Linked DNA regions of Homo sapiens. The protein of the gene in region 2 purifies or fractionates together with the protein of the main gene of each other region. This does not show direct contact. Each region holds a gene or a part of one and is shown on either strand. Other genes may lie near its edges.

Region 1 (3,500 bases), on a different chromosome or scaffold from region 2:
GGTCAGCTGGAGGTCAGAGGGGGGAGGTCACAAGGGGACGGGTGGCATGGGACTCTCTCACCACCCTGGGGCCGTATTTACAGAGGGGCCCCACCCACCTTCGCCGCCCCCCAGGCCCCCAAGCCCTTTAGACAGCTGCTGCCGATGTGACTTCCGGGCAGGCCCTCCTCGTGTCTCCTGCCTGAAACCCCGGCATTGTCCCCGCTTCCCTCTGCAGAGTGGGGGGGGTTCAAACTCCTAACCGGCACCTCGGAGACCCCCGGGCCTTCTGGAAGCCCCAGCGTCGGCTCAGCCAACGCCCAGGCCGCTGGGGCCACCACGATCGTCGCTCGTGGACACACACCCTGCACGCGTGGCCCACTTGACACACACGCCCACAGCAGCCTTCGCTGGCACGCACACACACGCCCACCTCCCCGGCCCCTTGCACACGAACACGGCACGCACACGCACGCACACCCACACACGCCAGGGGCCTGGGTTGGGGAGGGACCTTTCCAGGGGTGGGGGAGGGCTTAGGTCTGCAGCTGTGGCCCCCCATTCCCCACCGGCGTCCAAGCCTCCCCTGCCTGCCGCCACCCCGAGAACGGAGTTGTGCAATTGGTTAGAAAACCGCAAAAGAAACCAAAACTGCAAAAAAAACCAAAACCTACGCGCATAAGGTCAACCTCAAATCCATAGCAAAGTCCTCCCGCCCACCCACCCCCAAACCGTCTCAGCGTCCTGCGGCCCCGGGTAGGGGGAGGGCGAGCTGGTTGTGCTTCCTTGTGGCGGAGGGGGCCCCCCACTCCGCGGGTGGGTCGCGGGGGGGACTTGAGCACCCACTCGGAGTTGCCCCGGGCCCCGGCGTTCTGGCACCGTCTCTCGCTCCTGGTTCCCGTGGCTGGCACTGCCAAGGCATCGGGGGGCCCCCGGCCTAGGGCACGGGGGGCGCAGTCCTGTCCGCCCCCCCATAGGGGAGGAGGTGGGCCAAGTCTGTGCCCGGCCGGGCGTGGCAGCCGCGGTGGCGGTCCCCAGGCCGGGCCTCGCCGCTGTTGAACGTGTGGGTGCGGCGCAGGGTGGCGGCCGGAGGGGCGTGGGGGCCCAGTGGCCTCCTCAGGCTGCCCGTCGGGGGCGGGCTCCAGGGCCGCGGGAGGCCATCGGCGGCTGAGGCTGGGTCCAAGGGGCCCGTGGGCGCGGACACCACCCGCCGGCGGTCCGGGCTGGCGTGGGGGGTGAGCGGGAAGTCGCCGTGGGAGGCGCGGCCGGGCCGGGCAGCATAGAGGCGGCCGTCGGGGGTCGGCTCCCCAGGCGCGGGGGGCTGCTCGGGGGCCCGGGCGGGCGCCAGCAGCAGGAGGGAGGATGAAGCGGAGGCCGGGAGCAGGGGGTGGCCGTGGTCCCAGGCGCGGGGGCCCAGGGCGTGGGGGTGCGGGTGCGGAGTGGGCAGGCGCTTCTGCGGCAGCGGCGTCTGCTCGGGCGTGGGCAGCAGCCCCGAGTCCAGGTCGTGGGGCCCGCCCTGCAGCAGCGTGGCCTTGGCCCAGCCGTTCTGCATCAGGGGCGCCAGCAGGGCCTCCGGGGGAACCCCGGCGCCACCGCCACCGCCTCCGCCCCGGCCCCCGGGACCCTGCGCCCTGCGCTCGCCCAGGCGGCTGACGCTCAGCACCGCCTCGCCCGCCCCGTGCGCCAGGATGGCCTCCTTGTCCTTGCGCCGGGCCAGCTCCCGCCGCTCACGGAGGCCCACGAACCAGCCCACGCTGAAGCCGGACACCACGGCTCCCACCACGAAGGCCGCCACCGACGACGTTACCAGCAGGTTCACCGACACCAGCCCCGCGCGGTCCTCGGAGAGGCTGGCCCGCAGGAGTCCTGGCCGGGGAGCACAGGGGGGTTAGTGGGGCCGGCGGGGTGGCCCTGGGCATCCCTCCTACCTCCTCGGGGCCCTCTGTCCTCTTTTTTATTATTTTTATTTTTTTTTATTTATTTATTTTTTGAGAAGGAGTCTTCCTTTGTGTGCCAGGCTGGAGTGCAGTGGGGCGATCTCGATTCACTGCAACCTCCGCCTCCCATGTTCAAGTGATTCTCCTGCCTCAGCCTCCCGAGTAGCTGGGACCACAGGTGCCCACCACCACGCCCGGCTAATTTTTGTATTTTTAGTAGGATGGGGTTTCACCACGTTGGCCAGGCTGGTCTGAACTCCTGACCTTGTGATCCGCCCACCTCTGCCTCCCAAAGTGCTGGGATTACAGGCATAAGCCACCACGACTGGCCTTATTTTTATTATTTTTTAATTTTTTTTGTTTGTTTGTTTTGAGACAGTCCCCCAGGCTAGAGTGCAGTGGTAAAGCTCACTGCAACCCTGCCTCCAGCTACCTGTTTGTTTTATTAAAGACAGGATCTGGGCCAGGCATGATGGCTCACACCCATAATCCTAGCATTTTGTGAGGCTGAGGCAGGAGATCACCTGAGGTCAGAAGTTTGAGACCAGCCTGGCCAACAAGTGAAACCCATCTCTACTAAAAATACAAATTTTAGCCGGACATGGTGGTGTGCGCCTGTAATCTCAGCTACTTGGGAGGCTGAGGCAGGAGAATCAATTGAACCCGGGAGGTGGAGGTTGCAGTGAGCTGAGATCACACTACTGCACTCCAGCCTGGGTGACAGAGCAAGACTCTGTCTCAAAAAAAAAAAAAAAAGACATGTTCTCACTCTGTTGCCCAAGCTGGAGTACAGTGGCCTGATCACAGCTCATTGCAGCCTCCACCTCCCTGGGCTCAAGCGATCCTCCCGCCTCAGCCTCCCAAGTAGCTGGAACTACAGGCATGCACTGCCACGTCTGGATTATTTTTGGGTTTTTGTTTTAGAGACAGGGTTTCACTATATTCCCCAGGCTGGTCTCAAACTCCTGACCTCAAGTGATCGTCCTGTCTTGGCCTCTCAAAATGCTGGGATTATAGGCAGGAGCTGCCGCGCCTGGCCCCTTCTGTCCTGTTGAAGTTGGTCTGTCTGCCTTCTGTTGTCTCTTCGTCCTTGCCAAAGCCTGCCTGTTTCTTGGTGTCTCTGTTCTTCCCCTATCTCCCTCCCCAATAAATGAGATGAGACCACCCCATGCCTTTCTTTTCTTTTTTTGAGACGGAGTCTTGCTCTGTCGTCCAGGCTGGAGTGCAGTGGCGTGATCTTGGCTCACTGCAGGCTCTGCCTCCCGGATTCACGCCATTCTCCTGCCTCAGCCTCCCGAGTAGCTGGGACTACAGGCGCCCGCCACCACGCCCGGCTAATTTTTTGTATTTTTAGTAGAGACGGGGTTTCACCGTGTTAGCCAGGATGGTCTAGATCTCCTGACCTCGTGATCCACCCACCTTGGCCTCCCAAAGTGCTGGGATTACAGGCGTGAGCCACCGCGCCCGGCCCACCCCATGCCTTTCTAAAGTTCTCTGATGGAGTCCAGTTTCCCCACCCACCTCCCAGAGGATTCGAGGGTCCTCCAGCCTCCTCCCTCCCCTCCCCCATGGTAGTGGGGGATG
Region 2 (3,998 bases):
GGGACCCCAGGGGGAAAGAGCAGTCTGAAGGCCATGTGCCCTGGGTGCAGGCAGCTGCAGTGGCATGACAGGGCAGAGTTGATAAACTCAGATTGGCCAGGAGCCTGCAAGTGGACCCCTAGCTGCCTGCCCCTCTGCGCTCCCCACTAAGGCACAAGCAGGGCAGCCTGGTAGAGGCTGCTGCAGGCTCACTCCTCTAAGTCTCTTTGTCAGTTGCACCTGTGCCCACACCACACCCCATGTGGCATCCACAGCTGTATCCAGGAGGGAAGCTGGTGTCCTGTCTTACATTGTTCAGCTCTGTGCTTTCTTGGAAATGGCAGTTGTCAATGTCGTCTTCAAATTTCCCACACCTAGTTCTCCCCAGCAGTAGCTCCATTGAGAATACAGTCTTGGACTCCACCTATTGCACACAGAGAGATTAATGTGAACACACCCTCCTTGTTGCCCCTAAGTAGCTGCTGGTGAAGATGTCATTTGTGTAGGAGAAGTCCCAACATTCTCCTCCATTAGGGAGCTTGCCCATGGGCCTGGCATCAGGAGATCTTCTTTAGATTGGGCAGTTAAGAACAAAAAGCGGATGGGCATGGTGGCCCCAGGGCAGACACCCATGAATGTATCCCTATTTCCAGATGCACTTCCCACTCTCCCATGGTGAGACCCCAGTTTCACTCTCAGTCAGTGTCTGAACCTGCAGCTGCATTTCCAGAGGATGGCGCTATGTGCCTGGGGAGGGGTTTGGCTCTCCAAGAGCTTTCAGGGTAACCTCAGCCCTGGGACAGAGGGAGCCTCATCTAGGGCATGTTGTCAAACCTTCCACCTGACCTGAGGAAAAAAAAAATGCAAGAATGCCACCCAGCACTCCCACTACACACAGGCATACATCCTTGGGACAATGGCTTCAAGAAACACCATCTGGGGCCGGGTGTGGTGGCTCACACCTGTAATCCCAGCACTTTTGGAGGCTGGGGTGGGTGAATAATGAGGTCGGGAGTTCGAGACCAGCCTGGCCAACATGGTGAAAACCCATCTCTACTAAAAATACAAAAGTTAGCTGGGCATGGTGGCAGGTGCTTGTAATCCCAGCTACTCGGGAGGGAGGCTGAGGCAGGAGAATTGTTTGAACCCGGGAGGCAGAGGTTGCAGGGAGCTGAGATTGTGCCATTGCACTCCAGCCTGGTTGACAGGGTGAGACTCCATATCAAAAGAAAGAAAGAAAGAAAGAAACACCATCTGCCCTATTGCAAAGTGCACCTTGATCTTCTCACTCCTTTCAGTTTCACTTCATTCCATCTCCTTTCTCCCTATCCGTCCATTTCCCCAACTCCAAAACTGACTCTGGAATTGTCACATCCAGGAACCCACGTGGCAGGCTCCAGCCCAGAGAGCAGGGGTCAGAGAACCAGCCAGGGCCTTGCACAGGGTCTTTCCAGAGGCTGAAGCTTGGTGCAGGGTTGGGGTCCTTTTGCTCTTCTTGCAAGGTTTCAGTAATGAGGTAGGAAGAGCATTTTTGCCTCTCTACCCAACTAGAAGTCCTCAACTTAGCTGGGTGCAGTGGCTCATGCCTGTAATCCCAGCACTTTGGGAGGCCGAGGTGGGCAGATCATGAGGTCAGGAGTTCAAGACCAGCCTGGCCAACATAGTGAAACCCTGTCTCTACTAAAAATACAAAAAATTAACCAGGCATCTGGCGGGTGCCTGTAATCCCAGTTATTTGGGAGGCTGAGGCAGGAGAATCACTTGAACCTGGGAGGCGGATCTTGCAGTGAGCGGAGATGACGCCACTGTACTCTAGCCTGGGTGACAGAGCAAGATTCCATCTCAAAAAAAAAAAAAAAAAAAAGTCCTCAACTTGGTGACTATTTTCATTGTTCATGCCTACAGCACAGATGAACTGTGCATTCCTGATTGCATTCTGTAGTGACTTCATTAAAAGGAGAACATTTAGGATTAAGACCTGTGGTCTGAGGAAGAGTGTGAAACAGTCTTCAGTTTATTAAGTGCAGACACACCAAGGAGCTCAGAGAAGTTGGAAATCAGCAAAGAGGAACTGACCACCCAGAGGTCTTTTGGGACTGGTGGGGGTTTCTTATTGCTCCTGAACCCTTACTGTTCTCTTTTTTAATTTTCATTTTTTAAATTATCTCTTTTTTATTACATTTTTTGGAAGTATTTCTCAATTTCTCTCTATTCACATTTTCTGTTCAGCCCTTTTCCTTATTCCGTATCTTCATTTTCTTGGTAGTCCTCATTTTGAAGTCATTCTTCAGTTAAATAATGTCATAAAAAGATGGAGATTAAACAATATGTTTTTCATGAGAGTTGATTAGGATCAAATTATTTGAAATTTCTAACTTAGATGTTTTCAAAATCAAAAACTAACTAAACTACCTTGTATTTTCTTAAGTATGGACTACAACTGGTGAACAAGACTCTTCAATAAGACCCCCTGTCCCCACCCCACTCCCATTTTTCACTGAGCAGCACATGCCAGATGCCAGGGCAGGAGGGTACGTGGTCACCAACCTGCTCCTTCCAGGAATTCAAGATGTGCCCCAGTCTGTAGGCATAGTAGTCCTTGCTCTGTTGGTTGAATGTGTGGACAGCAAACTCCACTGTGGCAGGGAGGTAACGAGCCATGACATTGTGTTCATCACAGTCCCTTTGCTCGTGGAAATGCCAGGCATAGATCAGCAGGATCTGGGAGCCTAAGAGAAGCAGCAGCAGCGCCCAGGACAGACCTCCCTTCCACGGCAGGCCCAGCATGGTGCTGACTGTAGGCACCGCTGACTTTGCTCTTCCCAGCCCCCGTGCCCACAGGAGTTAATTGAGCACAGACCCAGCCCTTAATCTTATCTGCTCAGACAGCCCTGTGGGACAAACTTGTCTCACCCCACACTGGCAACAGGCACTCCTACAGGACAGGAAGGACAGGATCCTGGATTAAAGGGAGGCAGCTCTGGATGTGGAGTCACTCATCTGCCATCCTTCTGCCCTATACTCTCTAGGCCAGCACAAGCCACAGGCAGGAGGGGAGCTACCCTCTGCCACTAGCTTTGAAGGCTGCTCCTTCAGAACCCACAGGTTCTGGTTGTCCTCAGGTGCTTGGTGTCCTTGGATGATTCTGTGCCTTCGCCTCCCACAGCGAACTGAGATAAGACCTGGGGACATCTCGACTCTCACTCTCCCCTCCTTCACCCCGTCGAAGAGAGGATCTCCGTTGTTCAGAAAAATAACTAAGATATCAGTTTGTTCTTTTGTTGTATAATACCTCAACAGTTGTACTCTGTGAACCAAGGGAAAAAATGAAAAAAATAAATGGCAATTTTTATCAACCATTTTGACCTGGGATGGACAATGAGTATTGTGAGAAAAGGGCAGGAAAGACAGAGACCCAAGTCCTGAGGCCCCAGCCTGGTCATGCCCAGCCCAGCCCTGCTTGCATTTCTAAACCTTGTCAGCCCTGGTTCCAGCTGAGCCAGAGCCAAGGTTTCTACAGGGCCCACCGCCCTACATCTGCAGCCCCACCACACACACTCATGTTTTATTAGACTGGAATATCATTCTAGACCAAATTTTTAAACACTTCTCTGGGAGATCACATGTTTCTGCCTCAGTGAGATAGAGGTTGGACCATTCTTCAGCCCCTTGATCATTTTTGTCTCCATCTGACCATCCTTCTTGGTGTTCTAGAGTGAGCTATTTTGCCAGCACTTAGGTGATACTAGGTGGTTACTTTTAAATCAATTTCCTGGCAATAACTAACCTGAAAGAGGAAATAATAATATTTTGTTGCTGTAAGAATGAACATTAAATAGTGCAGGACAGGTGAAGTATGCAAAAGTGAGAGCTTTGAGTTTGGCTGAGAAGACTATGGTGCTGCAATATAGGCAAGAACCTAGCATTGTTGCCAGATAACAGAATAGAAAGTTCAGTCCCAAGTCAGGGAGACTGATTCTACAAGAACTGTTCTGACTGTGTCCCATACCATGTTCCCA
Region 3 (3,500 bases), on a different chromosome or scaffold from region 2:
TTGTTCCACATTCTGCCTGGAGCCAAAAGACACAATTAAGCCACCACATAGGATGTGTGTCTCCCTGATCATGTCACAGTCCTCCAAAATGCCAAGCTTGGCCCTGTCCCTGGACCTTTGTAAGTGTCACCATCTCATCTGCAAAGAACTTCCTGTCCGCTTCACTCTCCAAGTATTACTTTTTTTTTTTTTTTGAAGCAAGGTCTCACTCTGTCACCCAGGCTGGAGTGCAGTGGCACAATCATGGCTCACTGCAGCCTCGACCTCCAGGGCTCAAGTGATCCTCCCACCTCAGCCTCCTGTGTAGCTGGGACTACAGGCATGCACCACCATGACTGGCTAATTTGTTTTTATTTTTTATAAAGATGAGGTCCCACTATGTTGCACAGGCTAGGTATTACCTATTATTAAAGCCTGGCTCAAATCATCCCCTCTGCAGAAGTCTTCTCTCTACTCCTCCTTTGGACTTTTATAGACTGGAGACTAGACCACTCACTTAACATGAACCAGATTCTGCCCCACAGTGATCTGTATTGGTAATTGTGTATCTATGCGTGTTACTGAAAGATAGAGAGAGAGAGAGAAACAGAGAGCTCTGGTTTTTTCGTTTGTTTGTTTGGTTGGTTTTGAGACGGAACTTTGCTCTTGTCTCCCAGGCTAGGGTACAATGGTGCGATCTCAGCTCACTGCAACCTCCTCCACCCAGGTTCAAGTGATTCTCCTACCTCAGCCTCCCGAGTACCTGGGATTACAGGCGCCTGCCACCACACCTAGCTAATTTTTTTTTTTTTTTGAGACGGAGTCTCGCTCTGTCACCCAGGCTGGAGCGCAGTGGCGCGATCTCAGCTCACTGCAAGCTCCGCCTCTCCGGTTCACGCCATTCTCCTGCCTCAGCCTCTCTGAGTAGCTGGGACTACAGGCGCCCGCCACCACGCCCGGCTAATTTTTTGTGTTTTTAGTAGAGACGGGGTTTCACCATGGTCTCGATCTCCTTACCTCGTGATCCACCCACCTCGGCCTCCCAAAGTGCTGGGATTACAAGCGTGAGCCACCGCACCCGGCCACGCCCGGCTAATTTTTTTGTATTTTTAGGAGAGACAGGGTTTCGCCATGTTGGTCCGGCTGGTCTCGAACTCCTGACCTCAGGTGATCCACCTGCCTCGGCCTCCGAAAGTGCTGGGATTACAGGCATGAGCCTTCCCCTGTAGTAACTAGCACAATGCCTGATGCTTAAAAGGTTCTCAGTAAGAGTTTGACAAATGGATGGATGAATGAATGGACAGACATTTTTACATTTATAAGGACAAGGACCATGTCTCACACCTTTTTATATCTCCCTGATGTACTTGGAATCATACCATATTCCTAACTTGTGTTCTCTAAGCACACCTATGCGTATGCACACACCATAAACACACACACACACACACCCCATCCGTGCATTCAGTCATGAGAAGCAATACTCACAACAATCTTGCCCCCAGGCCCCTGGCTCCGAACACTGACTCCCAACCACTGGTTCTCCTTGCTTTCCTTTTGCATATCAGCTAGAGGCAGGACACTGGGAATTAGGGGAGGGAAGAGGAGCCCAAGTCCTCTCCTCCCCGCTCACACGCTTCCCCCACTCTGTTCATGCAGGGCCACACCTCCCTGGTCGATGTCCACTCTGTAGCAGTCAGTCTCCTCCAGGCTCAACGGGCAAGCGAAGAGGCCTCCAGTGCGATTCGCCTGCTGCCCAGGAAGAGCCAGGGCCTGGGGAGCACCCACCAGCAGCCTGCAAGATGGGGCAGGGGCAGGGACAGGGACAGGAGTTAGAGGTCAGAATGACCCAATCTCATTAGAGCTGCCCAGGCCCAACCCCTCAGTACTAAAGAGAGTGTTCAAGGACTAAAGAGAAGGGGCAAATGTCAGTTTTCTCAAACCCTGGCAAGGACAAATTAATATGCTTGGTCATGCAGTCATCACGTTGCATGTACATACTATCTGGATAAGGGATCAACATACACAGTAGATACACACACACACACACACACACACATACACGCCAACCCAAGCAGCCAGGCCAACAGTGCTGGTTTGAAAGAACTGCCTGTTCCCAGCACCTGTTCCTGAGTAGGCCTTCCCTATCCCCTCCTTGGCCCCATCCCCAAGCTCTGCCCTGCTCCCCAACCCAGTCCAGTTGAAACCCAGCCAGAAATGCCAAGAATGCTGGGAGCAAAAGTAACAGGGCCCCAGACTGGCATCAGAGTGTGGCTCAGGGACCAGCTTCAGAGGCCAGGCAAGAGGCTAGATACGGACCCACTGCCCCCTCATCAGGGACCCAGCAAAGACCCCACCTCCCAGAAGCTGTGCCAGCCCAGGATTCCATCAGTCACTCTGGCTGGCATGGAGGTAGGGACAAGTTTCTCCTTCTGCCTCCAATGCTACCCCATTCTCTTCCCGACATCCTGAATCCCCTTCCCCATCCTTCCTTCTCCCCATGTCCATGATTTCTCCTTCCCTTCCACCCCCACCCAGTCTTCTCTCCTGCCTCCCCCTCAGCCTCTTTCCCAGCTACAACTTTCTTGGCAGGACAATTTTCCATGATCACAGCCAAGCCGTCTTCCCCAGGGGAGCACAGTGCTGGGAATGGAGGCTGCCTGGGTCCCCTGGGGCTGAACCCCCAAGCCAGAGTGAAGGCGGGGGTGAGGTAAGATGACTGACACCCAGCTGGCTCCATGGGTCCTCTCTTTGCAGAAGGAGAGACTCAGAAGTGGCAGTGGGACAAACCTCAACGCCTCTCTCCCACACTCTTCTCCTCCATCTCCCTTCCTGGGGGGCAAGGCCCAAAACCATGTTAGGCAGTATTACAGACAGGCATCTGTGGGGCACTGTGCCAGCTCTGATGGGGTGGAGGGGGAGGGCAGAGAGCCATTCTTCCTTCCCACAACTCCTCCTCATCTCTTAGCAGCTGCCATCCCTTGTCAGAGCCAGTGTCAAGACAGAGAAGGGGTATAGGGAGTAGTAGAGAAGAGAAGACACATTTGGCATTCAACTACTTATTGAGAGTCTATTGTATGCCAAGCCCTGTGTCAGGCGCTGGTGAGACAAGGAAATCATATTTATTCAGCACCTACTATGACGTCAGATCCGAGGCTAGACACCAGGGATATAAGAAACTAACATTCATCACTGTCCACATATGTGCCAAGCACCAGGATAGGCAAGTCACATGCATTATGTCATTTAATCATCAGAACAATCCTATGAGATAAGGATTCTTTTCTTGTCTTTCAGATGAGAAAACTCACTCAAAGACATTAAGCAGTGATGCTGGAATTCAAATCCACATGGGCCTAACTCCAACACTTTGTCACTCCACCCAGTGACTGACCTGTCTCTAGAACACTGAGACCACCCCAGAAAGGGAAGGAGAGAGTGGGGAGATGAGGGTACCCTGGGCAGAAAAGGAAACGGGGTGATACAGCCCTGCATAAATAAATGGCAACCTTCAGGCAAGT
Region 4 (3,190 bases), on a different chromosome or scaffold from region 2:
GAACATGTGGAGGGATGTGGAGGATGCCCCCGCCCGCCCCCCACCTGTGGGAGGAGACAGATGGACAGGGCACAGGGGACAGAGAGGGCCCAACTCACCTGTGGCCTGGCAGAAGAGGTAGAAGTTCCCCAGGGCGTGCACGTGCTGTGCCTGGTCACTCAGGAAGGGCGGCAGCAAGGAGACCCTCGAGCTGCTGTCGGGCCCCGCACCCGAGGCTGGCCAGGGGGTCCAGGGAGAGGAAAGCCTCCTGTCCCCCACATGGCCCAGACAGGACAGGGAAGAGGAGCCAGGAGGAGGGAGGGGCTTAGGAGACGAGGCTGTGAGACAGAGAGGACAGAAAAGAGAGGGCACTGAGGAAGAAGTCGCCAGGAGCACGTCACAGGCCAGAGAGGGCAAAACACAGCAGGAAACGGACAGAAAAGAGCGAGCCCAGCTGTCCCGCCTGGGCCATGCAGGGGCGGGAGGCTGCACAGCCTCCGCTAAGGAATGTCTTCCCCAAATCAAGGATAGAAGCTTCTCATTTATTTGGGTACTTTCCAAATGTATACAATTCAAAGTAGAAAAATAAAAACAAGGTAAATCTTATAAAACACAAATGTTTACACCAAAATGGTCAAATCCTATCATGCTGGAAGATAAGACTGTCCACACACGCGCACAAACATCCAGAGTTTATTGCTCTTCACCATGGAAAAAAAGTCTCTTCCCGATGGGTATTTACAAAGCGGGGAGATGGAGTGTGAAATTAACCAGTGTTGAAATCGTACCACCCATTCACATCTTCAGGACAGTGGCAGGAACAGCGCCGTATGCTTGAGGGTGCTGTGGTCACAGCTCGCGGCCCCGGCCACCGAGGCCCAGTTCCCTTCCAGTAGTGGGCAGCTCAGTGAGGCTGGATAGAAAGTCTGGGCAGGCAGTGGGTAAGCAATTGAAGCAAGAAGAGAAAGGAGATGTTCAGAGAACCAAAGGCGCCCTTGTGAAGGTTCCATCTGTCTCACAGGAGGTTCTGACCGACAGCTGTGGGCTCCAGATTGTACCGCACTCCCATCTCAGCTCTGGGCCAGCCTGGCTCCACTCAGCTCATCCAGGCTACCTTCCCTTGCTCAAAACCCACCTCGTGGATGTGGGAAGGTCCTCTTCTTCGAGAGAGTAAAAGTTAAAAAAAAAGAAAAGTAAAACGAAGTACAGAAAGAAAATCTCTCCAAAAACAATGCTTCCCTCAAGGAATAAAGTTAAAAAAAAAAAAAGAAAAAGAAAAAAGGTGAGTGGGCTCCGGGGAGTGTTTATGTCTACATTTCTAAAAGCAGAAAGAATGCATTTAGCAAAAGGAAGTTTATCCCTGAGAATCTTAAGCAACGTAAGCCGTATTTTATGCCAAATATATAACAAAATCTGGAAGATATACATCTTCTTCTAAATATTAACACAACTGCTTCTGTAACTAAAAAAAAATGACCCATGACATAAACACAATCAAAGCAAAATCCTAAAAAAATAATTAAGTGGAAGAAAAGGTTCGTGCCAATCTGGACAACAGGCGATAAGTTACCAATCTGATAAACTAAAATGTCATTTCCAATCTGGAATTAAATAATCTTTTAGTGGCTGCTACGGGGAGGGGAAGCTGAAGGGATGCTCTTCTCAGCCAACAGAGGTCCAGCCACCTTTCCCCCACTACAGAAAGGGCTCAGGAACTCCGTGCCGCCCGTGGGCCTTCTTCAAGTACTCCGACTGACTTCGGAACACAAGACTGGGATGCAATGCTTGTCATTTTTCCAAAAGGACAAAGAGAAACCAAGTCACAGGCTCAACCCAAGAGAAAATAGACAAGAGGACTGAGGTTGTCTGCACGATGCGGGCTAACCTACGCAGCACTGCACGAGACTCGGATACTGAACAGGAGAAACACAAAACTCTCCACGCCTGGACACGTCGCAGCCGAGGCACCAGCGGGGATGCACAGCCGGCCTCAGTCTCCATCTGCGTCTGAGTCAGCGAACTTCAGCTCACACTTGACGTCAAAGGGCTTGTCCCTGGCAGAAAGGTCGTCGATCCTCTGTGAGTCCTCCCTATCCGTGGGGACTTTGCTGGTGATGGTGTCTTGCTCGGTCTCATAGCCGGTGTCCAGGGCTGGCTTGGGGTGCTCCCCATTCTGCTGGGAGAAGCTCCCTGGCTCTACTAACGTCTCCTTCAGGCTCTGCTCACGGTCACAGAAATCTGACTTGGGCTTCTTCTTCCCAATTAGTAGGGCCGAGCGGAATTTCAAGCACTGTCTGGGCAGGTATCCCTTATAGCAGTTGTAGAAAAAGAGGCAGAGGAAGAGAACAAAGAAGAAGAGGAAGAGGGACATGAGGAGGCGGTTGTCGCTGGACTTAAGATACATGGTTTTCTCCGAGTGGAGCTGGGGGACCGTGTTGATGACGATCTTTGGTTCGCAGGATGTGCCGGTGGGCGCAGGCTTGGGAGGAAGGGTGATGGCCCCGGAGGAGGTGGCCTGCACGGCTGGGGTTGGGGGAGAAGACCCTTGGGTGGATGCCACCAACACTTTGGTGGCAATCCTACTACCTTCTGTCTGAACAACTGACAAGGTGGGGGCCACTACGGGCTTTGGAACCACCTTCACTTCCAGGACGTGCTTGGCGACCACTTGGAAGACCGTTTTGTTCTTAACCCTCTCCTCTGACAGGCACTGGTACACCCCACTGTCTCCTTCTGACAAGTTGAAGATGAGCAAGTTTTTTCTGCCCATAAGACCGTACTTGGGGCTCTCGGCCTTCAACACGCCATTCTGGAACTTCCAAAAGACCCGGGCCAGGTTGGATTTTTGGGAGCATTTCAGTTCCGCTGTGCCACCGTGCTTGAAAAAATGCTGCCGGTAACTTCCTTTACTTTTATCTGGAACATCAAAATAAACGTGCACAGCGTCAACAATCCCCATTTGCTATTTAACAACTTCTTTAAAATACCCACAAGATGACGCAAGAGTTTCACCCACTGTAGCAACATGGAATCTTCCAGAACAACTAAGGAGATAAAGACATGCGTGACCAAAAAGCAAAGATGAGCCCTGGATGACAGCCCATGGGGACAAAGAAATTGGAGGCAGCTCTGAGCAGCAGAAATCCCATTTCTCACCCGTGTCCCAGAAGAAAACGCGTCAGGCTGGGGAAGCTGAGCAGAGGCCAGTTCT
Region 5 (3,500 bases), on a different chromosome or scaffold from region 2:
AATAGCAAGCTAACCTGAGGAAGGACTTGACAAAGCTACCTTACCTGTCCTCACAATCAGGTATAGGACCAAGCTTAATATGCATAACTACATCTCAGATGAAGAAAATATTAGTCTATTCCAAAATAATCCCTTGATTATAACGCAAGTGAAAGAGATTACATTGGAGCTAATGGGCAAAATTATTTTTTTTCCTCCTTCCCTTCTGAATACTTCGTTCTCTCTCTCTCTCTCTCTCTCTCTCTCTCTCTCTCTCTCTGTCTCTTTTCTGAGACAGGGTCTTGTTCTGTCACCCAGGCTGGAGTGCAGTGGCACAATCTTAGTTCACAGCAATCTCAAACTCCTGGACTGAAGTGATCCTCAGCCTCCCGAGTAGTTGGAACTACAGGCATGCACCACCACACCTGGGTAATTATTTTTACAATTAATTTGTAAAGACAGGATCTTACTTTGTTGCCCAGGCTGGTCTCAAACTCTTGGCCTCAAGCCCACCTCAGCCTCCCAAAGTGCTGGGATTACAAGTGTGAGCCATTGCACCCAACCAAAATTCTTTTAGTTTCTTTTCATTGTAAGAAATCCATGGACAAGCCTCATAGAACAGAGTACTTAAACTAGGTGGGTTCCTTAACCCTACCCATGGAAGAAAAAAAAAACAAAAACATATGGGGACCACCCCAGATTATGCATTCAAAGCAAATGCCATGGTACTTCACTGGACCCTTCCTATTAGACCTCTGGTAAAAGGGCTTTTGATCCATGGAGTCATATCACACACTGTCACCTAACCATCCTCTACGCACTGCCAGCTCCAGCAGGGAATTATAGGGAAAAAACTTTCGTGAAGGTCCTATAAGTAATATGATCAGCCCTTGATCAGTTAGGGTGCATTAGCTGGTGGAGACATATGCTCGGTGTTGCCACTGATGCTAGCACCATTGTCTATACCACCCTCAATCCCTCCTTATTCCCATCAATCACTAACTCTTCTCTTATCAATTTTGACAGTCATCCAAGACCCTGACAGGTGGTTCATAAGGATTCTTCTCTCTCAAACTCTTTGAATTCTCTTGGATAACTTAAAGGTCCTTACAGATAAACCATCAAATGTTGGCCTCAGAGTTCTTTGAGCTCAATGCTATGAACTTCCTTCACTCCACTTTGGCCACCCATATCCATGGCCACAACCTAGACTATGCTATCGTCAGAGCTGCTCCTCCACGGTCTGGCAGTCCCCTATTCTTCTGGACCACTTACTAGTGAGGCATAATGTGTTCATGCGTGTTTAGGCAATACGTCTATTTTCTTTAGCAAACCGCTTTTAAATATTGACTTTTTTCCAGTCAATTTAAAAGTGTTTCACATGTCACACAAATTAACCTTTATCTAATTTTTTTGTTGTTGTTTTTTTAGACGGAGTCTTGCTCTGTCGCCCAGGCTGGAGTACAGTGGTGCGATCTTGGCTCACTGCAAGCTCCACCTCCCAGGTTTACACCATTCTCCTGCCTCAGCCTCCCAAGTAGCTGGGACTACAGGTGCCCGCCACCACGCCTGGCTAATTTTTTGTATTTTTAGTAGAGATGGGGTTTCACCGTGTTAGCCAGGATGGTCTCGATCTCCTGACCTCGTGATCCACCCGCCTTGGCCTCCCAGAGTGCTGGGATTACAGGCGTGAGCCACCACGCCTGGCCAATTCCTACTTACTTTCTATGACTCAGTATAACAGTCTTTGCTTCTGGTTAAAAAAATTGTACCTGGCCTGGCAAGTAGCTCACACCTGTAATCCCAGCACTTTGGGAAGCCAAGGCAGCTGGATCACCTGAGGTCAGGTGTTTGAGACCAGCCTGGCCAACATGGCAAAACCCCATCTTTACCAAAAATACAAAAATTAGCTGGGCATGGTGGGGCATGCCTGGAATCCCAGCTACTAGGGAGGCTGAGGCAGGAGAATTGCTTGAACCTGGGAGAGGGAGGCTGCAGTGAGCCAAGATCATGCCACTGTACTCCAGCCTGGACGACAGAGCAAGACTCCATCTCAAAAAAAACAAAAAAATTGTACCTGGACACACACACACACACACACACACACACACACAAATAAAATCTCTATTTTTATACTTATTTACTTTTATTATTCCATTATTAATTTACTTTTTGTCAAAGCACTCATTATACCATATTGTAGTTGCCTATTTACCTATATATTTCTATCAGTTTGAATTGGAAACTTCCAAGTCCTAATATGTGATATACTTCTGGTAAATAGAATAAATTAATTAATTTTGGCCTGGGCGCGGTGGCTCACACCTGTAATCCCAGCACCTAGGGAAGCTGAGGCGGGTGGATCACTTGAGGTCAGGAGTTTGAGACCAGCCTAGCCAATATGGTGACACGACATCTCTAATAAAAATACAAAAATCAGCAGGGCATAGTGGTGCACACCTATAATCTCAGCTACTTGGGAGGCTGAGGCACGAGAGTCGCTTGAATTTGGAAGGTGGAGGTCGCAGTGAGCCAAGATCGCCTCCCTGCACTCCAACCTGGGTAACAGAGCAAGACTCGGTCTCAAAAAAGAAAAAAAAATTTTTTTAATGTAATACTTACTGAGTTTGCTCTCTACCAGATGACTTGCTAGGCACTAAAAATGACACAAAATAAATCTCAGTTCCTGCCTGAATTTACTTACAATTTTACTGATGATGTTTAAGAAAAAATCAAGTTAAATGAGGGTCAATAGCCATCCAAAGAGTTCCTTAAAATTCCATGCCCAGCTGGGCGTGGTGGCTCACGCCTGTAATCCTAGCACTTTGGGAGGCCGAGGAGGGCAGATCATCTGAGGCTGGGAGTTTGAGACCAGCCTGACCAACATGGAGAAACCCCATCTCTACTAAAAATACAAAATTAGCTGGGCGTGGTGGCTCATGCCTGCAATCCCAGCTACTCAGGAAGGCTGACGCAAGAGAATCGCTTGAACCCCGGAGGCAGAGATTGCAGTGAGCCGAGATCATGCCACTGCACTCCAGCCTGGGCAACAAGAGCGAAACTCAGTCTCAAAAAATAAAAATAAAAAATAAAAATAAATTCCATGCCCAAATGTGAATCTGATAGCAAAATAAGCTGTATTGTTTAATGCATTAAAATAAAATATAAGCTTGAAATGCCAGGCACAGAAAATGATAGCAAGTCACCAAATATAGTATCTTTCTTCAAGTTAGTACCTCATTTACACCCATCTCACATCTTACATCCATCTCTAGAAACAACAATCACAAACTGTCTAGAAGTTCATTCATTTTTAAATACTTTGGATACTTACTTGGAGATCGCCCAAATTTTTAAATGACACAATTCTTTAATGGAAAGCATAAGAGATCTCCTTACTTGGTACATGTGTTCTGATCCAACTTTCCTAGAACGCCTGTTCAATTTCAAACAAGTTTCATTAAATATTGAAATATTGAAACTTCCATCATCTTCTAAGAGATCAACTTCTAAAAGACAAG
Region 6 (3,500 bases), on a different chromosome or scaffold from region 2:
GAGGCAGGGCTGAGGAGGGCTGGAGGTTGCTTCTCCTGTTCCTGTGCTCCACCTAGGATGCTGGCCCTGAGCCACCAGACCTGTCCCTCCCCTGCAGCTGTGCCCCTGCGATGGCCCCTCCATTCTGAAATTTGCTCCTCACCACTGTTTTCAAGAAGTAGCTTGAGGCCTGCCTCCTCCAGGAAGCAGCTTGGATATTCTTTCTTTTCTTTTCTTTTTCTTTTTTTCTTTCTTTTTTTTTTTTTTTTTGAGACGGAGTTTCCCTCTGTTGCCCAGCTCACTGCGACCTTCACCTCCCAGGCTCAAGCAATTCTCCTGCCCCAGCCTCCCGAGTAGCTGGGATTACAGGTATGCACCACCACACCCAGCTAATTTTTGCATTTTTAGTAGAAATGGGGTTTTGCCATGATGGGCAGGCTGGCCTTGAACTCCTGACCTCAGGTGATCCGCCCACCTCAACCTCCCAAAGTGTCGGGATAACAGGCATGAGCCACCATGCCTGGGCCTGGATTTTCTTCTCCTGAACCCCTGTTCCCCATGTAAGCTGGTCCCAGCTAACTGCTCACCATTTCTCCTGTTCTCCCCAACTTGTCTGTAAGCCTCTTAAGGGTGGTCTTCACAAGAATTGAAAGCTGAAAGGTCTTTGAGAGCTCATGAGTCCTAAACCCCTATTTCTCAGATGAGGAAAACTGAGGCCTGGGGAAGGAAGTGAACTTCTGAGGTCACAGAGCAAGCCAGAGACAGATATGCAACCAGGAGCCAGGTCTCCTTATGCTTATACCTGTACCCTGCCCATTATGTTCCTTTGACCCCTTGGCAGTGCCAGGCACAAGTGTTAAACAAAATCCTGACCAAGTCATTGAAAATGCTATTTTGTGGGTGGTTAAATGTATGGTTGTGGAGTCAGACCTTGTTTGAGGTCCAGACCCGCCACTTTTGTCTGTGTGACCTTGAGCATGTCACTTGACTTCTCTGAGCTTCGGTCTTCTCATCTGTGAAAACTGTGGATTAAATCAGCTGATGTATCAAGTACTTAGCCCACTCCCAGGACACAGTAAGTGCCAGAAAATGAGATCTGTTAATAATGTTGATAATGATAACAATATCCCCCAATGATTCTCTCCACTGTGTGTTCCACAGCCTCCTCCCCACCCTCCAGTCTGTCGATGTTAGCCTCCGGGGAGCATGGATATATTTTTTGAATGGCTCTGTCATCCTGAGGACCCCTCCAATGCCCTCTGCAGGACCCAGGACCCACCGTGCTCCAGCTCAGCCACACGACCCTGCAGGACGTCCAACTCCTTTTCCACTTCCTGCCTCTGCCGGCGGCTGCTGTGGCTGAGGGCCACACGCTCCTTCTCCAGTGCCAGCACCTGGGCCAGCAGCTGCCCCTCCAGCTGGTCCATCTTGGAGTGTAGGCCGGTGGGCACAGCAGAGACTGGGGCTGGGGCAGCTGAGAGGTTCACACGGGCTGGAAGCTCCTGCTGTTCACAGGGCAGAGAAACAGAAATCAACTGAGGGGAGGAAGGACAGGCTGGGAACACTCAGATGCCTACCGCCCCTGCTCAGTGACCCCAGGGGAGCCTCAGCTTCCCCAGTATGCAAAATGGGAATGACAATGGCCAACATCAGGCAACAGATGCATCCTGGGTCCCTGGCAGGCTCTGTTCCTGGTGCTGGCACATGACGGCGAGCAGCAGGCAGAGCTGGCCCCGGCCCTCAAGGACAGCTCAGGCTGTGGTGGGGGTGTGGGGCGTGGCCATGAGTGCTGTGAAGGTCCCCCAGGTGGTTTCAGGGTGCAGCTGGGGCTGAACGCCCCACCCTAGTCCTTCATAGCAGCAAGGCTAGACACTGATAGGCTGGTAAAGGGGCGGACCATCTTAGTCTTCATTCCCTCACTCAGCAAGCTTCTCTAGAACGGTCCTTGGCAAAAGGCTCTGTATGGCCACTGGGCCCACTCAGGGCGTGAAACAGGGACTTCTGGAGCAGGGCCCCGGTGGCTTGACCATACCAGGGTGACAGGTGGTTGAAATCACATACTTTGGAGTCAGACAGCCCAGGGTTCAAAACCAGCTCGGTAACCAATCTGCTATGTGACTCTGAGAAAATATCCTGACTTCTCTGAACTTGTTTACTCAAAAGAGAGCTGCACCTATTTGGAGAGTTGTGGGGAGGACTAAGGATTAAATATCAATAAACAGAGCCTGCTTATTGCAATTGCTGTCTAGGGCAGGGTGTTCCAGGGTAGGCTCTGACATCCCCCATCCAGCCCGGGATGAGGTCTAAGTGTTCAGAGTTCCCCATGACATGCCTGTCTTATCTTAAGACCCCAAGGGCAGCAGAACTGGGGCAGGAGCTGGGAGGGTTTCCTTCCCCTTCTCCTGCTGGAAGAAGGCCCCTCTGGGGTGGAGGAACGCAGGTGAGGCCGCAGGTCCAGACTCTTCAAGGGGACAGTCTGTGGCAGACATGTCACAGAAATGTCAGTAGGAGATTAATAATTCAATGAGCTGCTAGGAGCTAAATTAAACCTTCACCATCCTCCACCATCCTCCTGGATTCCCCCTCCTCCATGGTCCCCGCTACCAGGCCTGATGCTTGCGAACTCCCCAGGGGCCTGGGAAGTTTTTGCTCAGTCAGTTCCTTGCTCCCAGGCTTAGGCCCCAGACACGAACTCATTGCATTCTGTGATTCAGTCACTGAGCAAACATTCAGAGGGCACCCCCATTGTGCTGGGCACTGCCCCAGATGCTGAAGTTGTGGCTGGAGGCAAAACAGAAAACCAAGAACCCCACCTTTCCTCAGTTTCCTAAGCTGCGAGGGGATGGCCTTGCAGCCTGGGACAAGTATAGAATCCCCTGTCCAGCCTCACTGGCCCAGCCAATGGCCTTGTCAGTCATTTGCTGGGTGACACTGGACACTGCTGGTGGCTGCTGTGACTGAGGGCCGCGTGTTCCTTCTGAGCTGTGCACTCCTCCTTAACTTCTCTGAGCCTGTTTTCTAGCCATGGGACAAGGGGAGAAGTGCGTCCCCTGCATCAGAGTGCTGGGGGCAAAGGACCACTGCCATGCTCAGTGCCCGAGACTTGGGAGCTGCCAGTGTGGACAGCAATGTGACCTCATTTTGAGGAGTTGCAGGAACCGGCCCTCGGCTCTGCCACTGCCCCGTGAGAGTAGGGACAGGTGGGCTGACACTCCGAGATCATTTTTCCCCTTCTATAAGATGGAGACACGGAATGCTCAGCCTCCAGGGCTGGCCAGCATTAAATGATGGCGTGTAAGGGAAGTGCCCAGAGCCTGGCCCACAGTGGGTGCCGGGGGCATGGTTTTGGGTGCATGGGGTAGGTGGGAAGACTGAATGGGACGCTCTTGCTGCCGGCTGAGCCTTAGCAGACACCTTGCAAACATTCCCTCTCTGAATCCACTTAACATGCCAGTGTCCCCATTTCAGGGGCAGGAAAACTAGGGTGAGTTAACTAAGATCACACCAGGAGCAGGAGCAGA
Region 7 (3,500 bases), on a different chromosome or scaffold from region 2:
CCCTCTTCCCAACTATGGCCATGCAACCAGGGGCCTCGGCTGGATCCCCTGCCCCGTCCAGAGACTGACCTCAACAGATTTCTTTAACAGATGGAAAAATATAACCTGCAATTATTCAAGGGCTGAGCCGGGTCATCTTGCTGCTTTTGTACGATTCACAGGTGAAGCAGGAGGCAGCTGTTCTAATGGAAAGAATGTGGTTGCTGAATCGAGAACTGTGGCCCAAGGCTTGGTCCCAAACTCTTCTATAGCTGCATGACCTTGATAATGAGTTAGCTTCACTGAGCTTTGGTTTCCTCATCTGCATGAGATAAAGCAATGCACTTCCACATCCAACAGCAGTGCCTGGCACACAGGGAGTGCACCGCAATGGCCGCTTTTATTTGCTCTTCCAGTTGGCCCCCTTCCTAGAGGATGGGCCAAAAGATGCCAAAAAAGAGGACACGAGTTGGCTAATTTGGCTCCTCTTTAGGAGTATGGTAAAATGATGGCTTCTGTCTCCTACCTACCATCCCCACTGAAACCCCCTCGCCACAGGCCCCCCACCTCTCGGAAGCCTGTTAAGACTACAGGATGGGCTTCCAGATGGATCCAGGAGTGCAGAATAGAGCTTCCATGCACAACAAGTCAGATCACAGGCCTGGGAGGCAGAACTCTAGCAGCTGGACAGAACACTCCACCTCTGTGTATCACTCTGTAGCCACTCTACTCTTCTGTGACCATCTCTGCCACAGGGCAGGAGCCACCCCTTAGTGTTCCAGTATTCAGTGCCCAGAAGAGGGTCGATGGTGAGCTAATAAGTATAGAGCCGCTGTGGGCACCAGGCTTTTTTTGTTTTTTTTGTGAGCCAAAGATATTTTCTTCATTTCTTGCATTAGAAGTTCTCTCTGATGACATGCTTGGCCTGAGACTCCTTGCCATAGTCCTTAACTACTATACAACTGCAACCAACCACTTTACGGGGTTTCCCCTCTCTGTCAATTTGACAGAGACCTACCCATTCCCCCAGTTTCTTTTGTCATCAACCTTAATTAGGTTGATTTGGTGCTCAGCACAAAGGGCTTCCACCAACTTGACATACACAGTCTCATCACCGTTGGATGCAAGCACACAAAGATGGGCTTGGCGCTTGTCTAAGGCTTTGGTAGCTTTGCGAATTCCATGTGCTAGGCCATCGTGGATGAGGGCTGTCTTCAACAGCTCTTGTAAAGCAGCATTAATGTCCATTACCCCTCCAGCAGCAATGCCTTCCTCGGCCATGGCAGTGGGTTACGGGTGAAGCCGAATCTTGAACGCAACTGAGCCTGAGCCTCCGTCTCTGCATGACTTGGTGGCAGCAGGGAAAGAGCCACCAGGCTTTTAATTATCTTATCTTACAGACAGGATAGCTGTCCCACATCCAGCACAGGGAGGTCAGAATGTGAAGAGGAGGGGCAGGGAAACCAGCTGGGGAAAAGCATGGAGAATGCAGTCCAAGGGAGCAGACTTCCCAAAAAGCTAATCTGAGGGAAGGCAGGCCTCGACCACAGGAGTCTCGCGTTGTGTTGTTCCTGTTGCCCCGATCCCCAGGGAGGGCCACATCAGAGGCCCCCTGAGTCCTGCGCCAGCCTGAGCACCCATGGGGGTGGAGTGAGAGGCAACAGGCTCTAAGAAGATAAAGGAAGGAGTGATTGATGACATGACCCGAGTCTAGCCTTTTCTCCAGGCCCCGTGCCACCCTCTGTCTCTTGCCTAGAGGATGAACATGCTGGTATATCCAGATATGCCCCAAAAGTTGTGCAAGTTTAGCGCTCTCCTGGGTTGGCACAGAGGTATTTCAACACCAGCTGGATGTGGGTTGTGCTGAAGGCAGAGCAGAACCAGTGAAGGGCAGGCAGGGAGAGGCATGGTCCAGCCCCATGCAGAGGAGGTTCTTCAGGCAAAGGAGGACTTTGAAAAGGCTGAATCAGGAGCACTTAATAACTGGGCTATAATTAAGCAGGACCCCTGGTAATGACCTCCAATCAGCTCCTGGGGGCCTTGCTTTGTCTTTTCTACCAGGGCAGGCACTAAGCCTGACAAGGCTTGGCACCTAGCAGAGGGCCTGCATACCACCAGTGTGCACAAAAATGGATGCAAATAACCTCACCAAGCAAGGCTGGCAGGGGGTTTCTAGCACACCAGAGCAGAAGCTACCTTTTTACTACGGATGCAGCATGTGCCAGGCACCATGCCAAACACTTTACATACATTATTTCATGTAATCCTCTCAGAACACTGTGAAGATGGCCATTATTCCTCTCTTGCTAATGTGAAAATGGGCCTGGAGAAGGCCAGGAGCTTGCCCAAGGTTGTGCAGTTAGTAAGGGTGGCAAGCTACTTTACAAAGCCAGGCTCTGAGCATCCGCAGTTAGAGCGCCTTCCACTCACCTCTGCAGAGCCAAAGAGATGCTGGCCCATAGGACAGAGCTGGGGACAAAGGCTCATGTCCAGTTGAGACCATGTCAAGGAGGGAAGCCAGTAACCGGGCTGAGGGCTCAACAAGCGACCAGCATCAGGGCTTCCCAGGGCAGCCTTGACCCTGGCTGCCTCCTCCAGGGCCAGAGGGCAAGCAGCTGATTTGTGCCAAATGCTCCATTCTCTCTGCTCAATGGCGTTTTGTTGACTGCAGTTTGCAGGCCTGCAGATTTCTGTCCAATCTGCTTCAGAAATACTGCGTCCAGAGCTTTCCCGCCCGGCACTTCTGGGGCAGGAGGGAATTAATAACTCCCTTTAAGGCCGGATGTGGTGGCTCATGCCTGTAATCCCAGCACTTTGGGAGGCCAAGATGGGCAGATCACCTAAGGTCAGAAGTTCGAGACCAGCCTGGACAACATGGTGAAATCCCATCTCTACAAAAATACAAAAATTAGCTAAGCATGGTGGCGGGCACCTGTAGTCTCAGCTGCTCGAGAGGCTGAGGCAGGAGAATCACTTGAACTTGGGAGGTGGAGGCTGCAGTGAGCGGAGATGGCATCACTGTACTCCAGCCTGGGAGACAGAGCGAAACTCCATCTCAAAATAACAATAATAATAACTCCCATTAAGTGTCCAAATAAGGTGGCCCAAAAAGACTTTGGAGGGCCATGAGAGGAGGCGTGTTTTGTTTCTCCCCACGTGGCCAGGCTGGGAAGCACTGGGCGCCATTGTTTCTACTCAGCACCACTCCTGCTCCTGACCGAGGCTTTGGTCCTGGAGCTCTGCATGGTAGTTCCAACGCAAGAGAACCCAAATTCCACACACTTCTTTGAAGTGTTCCTTTCAGAGATTTCCAGCTGACTGTGGAGCCCCCAGTGGCTGTCCCCTCATCCTCCTCTCCCTACTGGCCACTGGGCGAGGCCACAAATCGGCTCCCTGCATCTTAAGCACCCCAGGAATGTGCTGTTCATCAACAATAATTAGGGTTCCCTATGAAGGACCCCAGATGCAGGGCAAGCTGGACGCTCCACTTCAAGGGATTTTGTTTTAAACCACAGACATAG

Evidence for each region.
Region 1: the proteins of CST9L (region 2) and SEMA6B purify together in Homo sapiens (affinity purification with mass spectrometry; one large-scale study listed by BioGRID and IntAct). This does not show direct contact.
Region 3: the proteins of CST9L (region 2) and ITGA7 purify together in Homo sapiens (affinity purification with mass spectrometry; one large-scale study listed by BioGRID and IntAct). This does not show direct contact.
Region 4: the proteins of CST9L (region 2) and SEMA4D purify together in Homo sapiens (affinity purification with mass spectrometry; one large-scale study listed by BioGRID and IntAct). This does not show direct contact.
Region 5: the proteins of CST9L (region 2) and SUSD1 purify together in Homo sapiens (affinity purification with mass spectrometry; one large-scale study listed by BioGRID and IntAct). This does not show direct contact.
Region 6: the proteins of CST9L (region 2) and NPTXR purify together in Homo sapiens (affinity purification with mass spectrometry; one large-scale study listed by BioGRID and IntAct). This does not show direct contact.
Region 7: the proteins of CST9L (region 2) and SEMA4B purify together in Homo sapiens (affinity purification with mass spectrometry; one large-scale study listed by BioGRID and IntAct). This does not show direct contact.

The regions. Positions count from the first base shown.
Region 1 is NC_000019.10:4,542,685-4,546,184, forward strand, and holds part of SEMA6B (semaphorin-6B precursor), read right to left. Parts: intron 1,846-3,500; coding exon 917-1,845; 3' UTR 1-916. UniProt on the Homo sapiens protein: Functions as a cell surface repellent for mossy fibers of developing neurons in the hippocampus where it plays a role in axon guidance.
Region 2 is NC_000020.11:23,565,685-23,569,682, forward strand, and holds the start of CST9L (cystatin-9-like precursor), read right to left. Parts: upstream 2,801-3,998; 5' UTR 2,767-2,800; coding exon 2,527-2,766; intron 404-2,526; coding exon 290-403; intron 1-289.
Region 3 is NC_000012.12:55,701,405-55,704,904, forward strand, and holds part of ITGA7 (integrin alpha-7 isoform 2 precursor), read right to left. Parts: intron 1,775-3,500; coding exon 1,647-1,774; intron 1,548-1,646; coding exon 1,468-1,547; intron 17-1,467; exon of another isoform or gene 13-16; coding exon of another isoform or gene 1-12. UniProt on the Homo sapiens protein: Integrin alpha-7/beta-1 is the primary laminin receptor on skeletal myoblasts and adult myofibers.
Region 4 is NC_000009.12:89,376,735-89,379,924, forward strand, and holds the end of SEMA4D (semaphorin-4D isoform 1 precursor), read right to left. Parts: intron 2,896-3,190; coding exon 1,970-2,895; 3' UTR 501-1,969; downstream 1-500. UniProt on the Homo sapiens protein: Cell surface receptor for PLXNB1 and PLXNB2 that plays an important role in cell-cell signaling. Regulates GABAergic synapse development. Promotes the development of inhibitory synapses in a PLXNB1-dependent manner.
Region 5 is NC_000009.12:112,098,798-112,102,297, forward strand, and holds part of SUSD1 (sushi domain-containing protein 1 isoform 2 precursor), read right to left. Parts: intron 3,489-3,500; coding exon 3,379-3,488; intron 1-3,378.
Region 6 is NC_000022.11:38,827,029-38,830,528, forward strand, and holds part of NPTXR (neuronal pentraxin receptor precursor), read right to left. Parts: intron 1,485-3,500; coding exon 1,259-1,484; intron 1-1,258. UniProt on the Homo sapiens protein: May be involved in mediating uptake of synaptic material during synapse remodeling or in mediating the synaptic clustering of AMPA glutamate receptors at a subset of excitatory synapses.
Region 7 is NC_000015.10:90,204,330-90,207,829, reverse strand, and holds part of SEMA4B (semaphorin-4B isoform 1 precursor), read right to left. Parts: intron 1,349-3,500; exon of another isoform or gene 842-1,348; intron 1-841. UniProt on the Homo sapiens protein: Inhibits axonal extension by providing local signals to specify territories inaccessible for growing axons.